2 separate regions of the Homo sapiens genome follow, and region 2 is linked to region 1. Evidence: fine-mapped expression QTL. Tissue or cell type: fibroblasts. Region 1 holds a variant in brackets; the other region holds the start of a gene. All regions are shown on one strand. Distances are between the middles of the regions.

Region 1 (2,762 bases):
ATTCCTCCCCTCCCTGAGTTGTACGGGCTGCACTGTGCCTTTACCCTAAGTCCCTTCACAGTCAGTCCCTGGCTGTTGTCCCTTTGTGGTGGTCAGCAAGAGACGTGCAGTTTCAGTTCCATGCAGAGTGGGATGGCAACTTCAGGGAGGGGAGTTAGTTAGTCTAACTAATATCAGTTAGACGTTATTTTACTTATAAGTTCAACCCTGAATCAAGGGTGTGAAGAAATAGACTCCATCTCTTGATGGGGAGATGGAGAGAGAAGAAATGACACACTGCAAAGAGATGTGGATACAGGGAGGTATGATTTATTGACGATTATTATGATAGTGACCTATCACCAGTAGCCTTTAAGAGTCCTTCCAGGATTCATATAGATGCTTAATGGTCTTTCTTATATCAACTAAAGTAGGAATTCATTGCAATTGAGACACTTTCTGGTCTTTAAATATAAGAATATTCTAGAGACGGGCAAACTATTCTAGGTCAAAGTTTCCTCAAGTGGAAACTGTACGACTGGGTTTTATTCAATTTACCCATTTGTTTTTCTTTAGAAATATACAGCCTCTGCAGACACTGCTTCTGAATGAACGGGCTGGAGTTTCCTTGGGATCCTGAACTCATATTGGATTCTCTACCTACCATCTTGGACAATTCATGTAGGAAAACAAATCCTCATTTGTTCAAACAATAGATGAAAATTATTAAAGTTTTGACACATATTAAATGGCGGCCTTGTGTTTCAAAGAAAAGGAAAGAGATAGTTGAATCAGGGTAAAACAACCCACTCACAACCTTAGGCTAAGACACTCACACAGCTTGTCTTCTAGCAAACTGCGTATTTAATCTGCTAAGGCAATGGGGACCTTGTCTTGAGATAGAACTGCCACTCAGGGTCATATCTTTTGTTCTCCTCTAAACTCTACTCTAGTTGAAGTTTTCTAACAATCTGGGAACCCTTATCCCCCAATCCCTGCAGAATGGCTTAATCTAACACGTCGTAAAGAAGGAAACTTCTTGTCTTAACTTGGTTTAAAAA[ATCTT/A]TCTAACGACACAATTTTCAAAGGCTTCATCAGTTTAAAAAGATTATTGTGCTGACTCCATTAGCAATATCTGGCAGCCGCTACTAGGCAGCAAAACCTACCATGACTACCACTATTATATATTTGCAGTTCTCTTACTTTTTGGTGTTTTTTTGAAAAAAATTTTTTAATTTTTGTAGGTACATAGTAGGTATATATATTTATGGGCTACATGAGATATTTTGATACAGGAATGCAATATGTAATAAACACAGGGTAAATAGGGTATCCATTACCCAAGCATTTATCCTTTGTGTTACAGACACTCCAGTGATATTCTTTTAGTTATTTATAATGTATAATTAATTATTTTTGACTATAGTCACCATGTTGTGTTAGAGAATACTAGGTCTTATTCATTCTTTATAATTATTCTTTTGTACCCATTAACCATCCTCACTCCCCCCCACCCACCCCACTACCCTTCCTAGCCTCTGGTAACCATCCTTCTACTCTATCTCCGTGAGTTCAGTTGTTTTAATTTTTACTTCCCACAAATAAGTGAGAACATGTGACGTTTATCTTTCTTTGCCTGGTTAATTTCACTTAACATAATGACCTCCAGTTCCAACCATGTTGTTGCAAATGACAGGATCTCATTCTTCTTTATGGTGTTCTCAAAGCCAAAATATCTTCAATTGTTTGGACCATACTAGAAGCAGGCACAAAGTCAGACAGCCTTCAACATTCAAACAGAAATGGACACCAACACTCTTCTGGCCCGTATTTGGGCTCACTTAGGAAGTTAAAATGAGATCTATAATCTCAATGTTTTTGTTTGAATAGCTGACCTAACAGTGGAAGAAGACAACATGATAGGCATATGTGTTCCAGGTAAGAGAAAGAAAAAAGCATCAATCATAGGAGTCCAAACTATTTGGAATTGCCAACTCTGGCACTAAACAGCAGATGGCGCCAAAGGACCTTAGTAGCAACCAAGAGATTTGCTGCCATCTCTCTTTCTGCTTTCTCCTCCATCTACCCAAGATTGCTAGGCCTCAAGGTCTGGAGTTAAGAGCATAGGTTCAGGAGTCTGACTGCCCACCTTCACAGTACCACATTTGCTACTTGGGTGACCTTAGATGACTGACTTAACTTGGTTTTCCTCTTTGCAGAATAGGAATGTTAAGAAAAACCCTACCTCCCAGGGTTATTGGTAAGATTAGAATAATTATTACATATCATCATAAGGAATAGTTCCTGCCATATAAGTTTAAAAAATGTTAGCTATTACTCACTGAAACGCATTCCTTTCTATATTTTAACATCTTCAGTGGCATCTAATCTTGATGCATTGCCACCTCTCCTTTAATCCCCACCTAGGCTCCGTGGGGAACTTCCTATGACAAATTGACTAGGAAAAAAATTCAGGTCTGATTTACAGATGGTTCTGATGATATGCTGGTACCTCCTAAAAGTGGATGACCACGGCATTATAGAATTCCCCAAGGGTGATCCTGAAAGGCAGTTAGGAAGAAATATCTTCTTAATGGTCAGAACTTTGAGCAGTGCACTTAGCTGTCCATTTTACCTGGAAGGAGAAAGGCCAGAAGTTATGGATCTAAGCTGATTCACGGGTAGTGGCGGATGGTTTGGCTCTATGTTCAGGGACTTAGGGAGGACTGACTATGAATTAGAGAAGAAGCATGTAGATCAATCTTTTGTAAGGGCACAGGTGT
Region 2 (2,762 bases), 30 kb before region 1:
GTCTACTAATATCTATTTAATAGGGGTATTAAGAAGATTAAAAACATTGAGATACATAAAGTGTTTTACACAACACCTGGATTTTAGTAAACATCAGTTATTATTATTAGCATTCTTCCAAGATCTGCACACAAAGTGAGTTACGGCTAATCAGTTGATAAACTCCTAGCAGAGCAGAAGGTTATGTGTGTTGTGATGTTTAAGTGGTACTGGGAAACTCTGGTTGCCTTGAGGTTCTGAAATTCTACTGTATCAGATGGGTTCCTTTAAACATTGCTCTCTCTAGGGGGTCCTCTTTTTAAAAGTATGCACCTTCTGGAGGGCATCTCTTCATCCTTGTGTGGTTTAGTTTATCAGGTATTTTCCTCACGATGGCAGCCTGAGAACAGGGGACGCCCAAGGGCTGGGATTTGTGTGCTCCGGAAGAAAACGGGGTGTAGAAGTGGGGCCTCTGAAAGAGGGCGAAAAGGCAAGGAAAAGGAGAAATGTTGCACAGTCTTATGGTCTGTCCCCTGCCATTCTGTTCCCCTGAGGTGTCAGAGCAGCTTCTCTGTCTTCCCAGGGATGAGTTTACACAGACATTCCCTGTGGCCCCCTGAGGCCTCCACCTCTGAAATCTGCAGAACAGCCAGGAAACAAGCCCGGCCCATGGCGCCACCTGCTGCCTGCCTGCCTCCGCTCATGCACCCTGGGCTGGGATGGTACTTCTGTTCGTCTGGCATTATTGCCCTTGGTCATTTACCGGCAGCCCTGGGCCCCTCCTTGCTCTTCTCCATGACACTAGGACTCCCTTGGTCTTGAAGCTGGGTGAGATTATCAGGGTTTGTTTCTCAATGACTTTGAGGTTTGACAGCAGAGCACACTCTTTGGCAGATGAGGGGGCTTGAGGCTTAGTCTTATTCCGTGATTAAAAGCATTTCTTGTATGTTTGTCCTTTCCCAGCCTGGAGTGATGGGAATAAGGCCACTATGTTGACTTAGCGGAAGGAAGGGCTGACTCACTGTTCACCTTCCCTGTACGTTACCAGCTCGAGGTCTCAGGATGCGTTGGACCCTATTTTGGTCTCCGGAATTTGTCATCATGCAGTGCTATTTTCCCCATTATGCAGAGGTGGAGAGGGATTAAGGCGGGGGCGGGCCCCTGTCTCCATGGAGACAGTGACGCTACCCCGCTAGGGGTTATTTGGAAGCGGGGCAGGCCTAGGAGGCTGAAGAAGGCTTCGGACTGGACTCCCCAGCCCCTGGTGTTAGGGCTTTTCTCTTTCTTGGGCTTGGGAACATTAGCCAGCCCCATTTTAGAGGGGAAAACTGAGGCTCAGAAAGGGCACTGAATCCCCTTAGGTCACAATGCGCCCAAGGGAAGAGGCAGGATCGACTGAGCCTAGGATCTCGCGTCTTCGGCTTTCCCCCAGAGCCTGGGAAGCCCTTCTTAGCTCCACTCTTCTTTGAGCTTTCCGTCAAACAAATCCTAGGGCCCGTGGCCTTTTCGAGCGCTCCTAAAGGCGACTCTCCAAGACCCGCTCTCTAAGGTGCTCTTCCCCTTTAAGACTCACGGCTCTTCCCGTCAGGCTGCGTCGCAGTCTTAAGGCCCCGCCTTTTCAGACAGCTTCCGCTGGGCCTGGGCCGCTGCGGGGCGGTCACGGCCCCTTTAAGCCTGAGCCCCGCCCCCTGGCTCCCCGCCCCCTCTTCTCCCCTCCCCCAAGCCAGCACCTGGTGCCCCGGCGGGTCGTGCGGCGCGGCGCTCCGCGGTGAGCGCCTGACCCCGAGGGGGCCCGGGGCCGCGTCCCTGGGCCCTCCCCACCCTTGCGGTGGCCTCGCGGGTCCCAGGGGCGGGGCTGGAGCGGCAGCAGGGCCGGGGAGATGGGCGGTGGGGAGCGCGGGAGGGACCGGGCCGAGCCGGGGGAAGGGCTCCGGTGACTTAAGGGGAGGGAATGCTCCTCTGCCGTGCTCACCGCGTGCTGGGGCTGCGCGGGGCTAGGTATGGTCGGGCTGTTTTCCCACTGTCCCTTCTTCGGGCAGTGTCGCCGTCCAGCCTGGTTGTTGAAGCGTCCCCGTGGTCCCCCGGGGTCCAGGCCCCTTTGTGGAGGCAGCTGCTGGCCCCCAGCCCATGGGACCGTAGTCGCGGAGGCCTCTGCAGAGGCGCAGGCTGGAAGCGGTGGCCTTTGAGGGGGGCGGCAGGAGAGAGTACCGACCTCCCTCGAACTCCTGGCAGAGGTGGGGGTCGCAGCAAAAGCACTGGGGTGGAGGGCGGCCAGTGTGGGGCAGACGCCTGTGTGCCTTCCTCAGATACGGGCAGAGTTGTGGATGTGAGAAGGGTCTGGCTTGGGTACCTCAGTTCCAAACCTCCTGTGTCCATCAGAGAGCTGGCGGTCACCATGGCAATGCGGGAGCTGGTGGAGGCCGAATGCGGGGGTGCCAACCCGCTCATGAAGCTCGCCGGGCACTTCACCCAGGACAAGGCCCTTCGGCAGGAGGGATTGAGGCCTGGCCCCTGGCCCCCCGGAGCCCCGGCCTCTGAGGCAGTGAGTGTTCTTGAGGTGGAAAGCCCAGGTGCAGCCTCTGAGGCAGTGAGTGTTCTTGAGGTGGAAAGCCCAGGTGCAGCCTCTGAGGCAGTGAGTGTTCTTGAGGTGGAAAGCCCAGGTGGTGGTGGTCTGAGGTGGAGGGGCTGTTTGCACATCTTGGTATAACTGCTTTCTCTATTGTGTTGCAAATCATAGTAGTTACCACTTACTGAGCGTTTATAAACACTAGAAAACCCTGTGC

Evidence for each region. PIP is the estimated chance that this variant, and not a neighbour inherited with it, causes the effect.
Region 2: it holds the start of PEX5, and the variant in region 1 is fine-mapped to the expression of PEX5 in fibroblasts (GENCORD, PIP 0.95).

Annotation. Positions count from the first base shown.
Region 1 is chr12:7,217,847-7,220,608 of GRCh38, forward strand. It overlaps a transcript of PEX5 not described here. Among named protein-coding and RNA genes, the nearest start is that of PEX5, 30 kb to the left of the region's middle. The variant ATCTT/A (reference allele first, on the strand shown) is at 1,041.
Region 2 is chr12:7,188,004-7,190,765 of GRCh38, forward strand. PEX5 (peroxisomal biogenesis factor 5) reads left to right here and starts at 1,683. Exons shown (of 16, transcript NM_001351132.2): 1 at 1,683-1,747; 2 at 2,359-2,521. The coding sequence starts at 2,375. RefSeq lists enhancers at 168-669, 670-1,169, 1,480-1,539, 1,540-2,256, 2,250-2,399 and 2 more and silencers at 580-629, 1,650-2,059.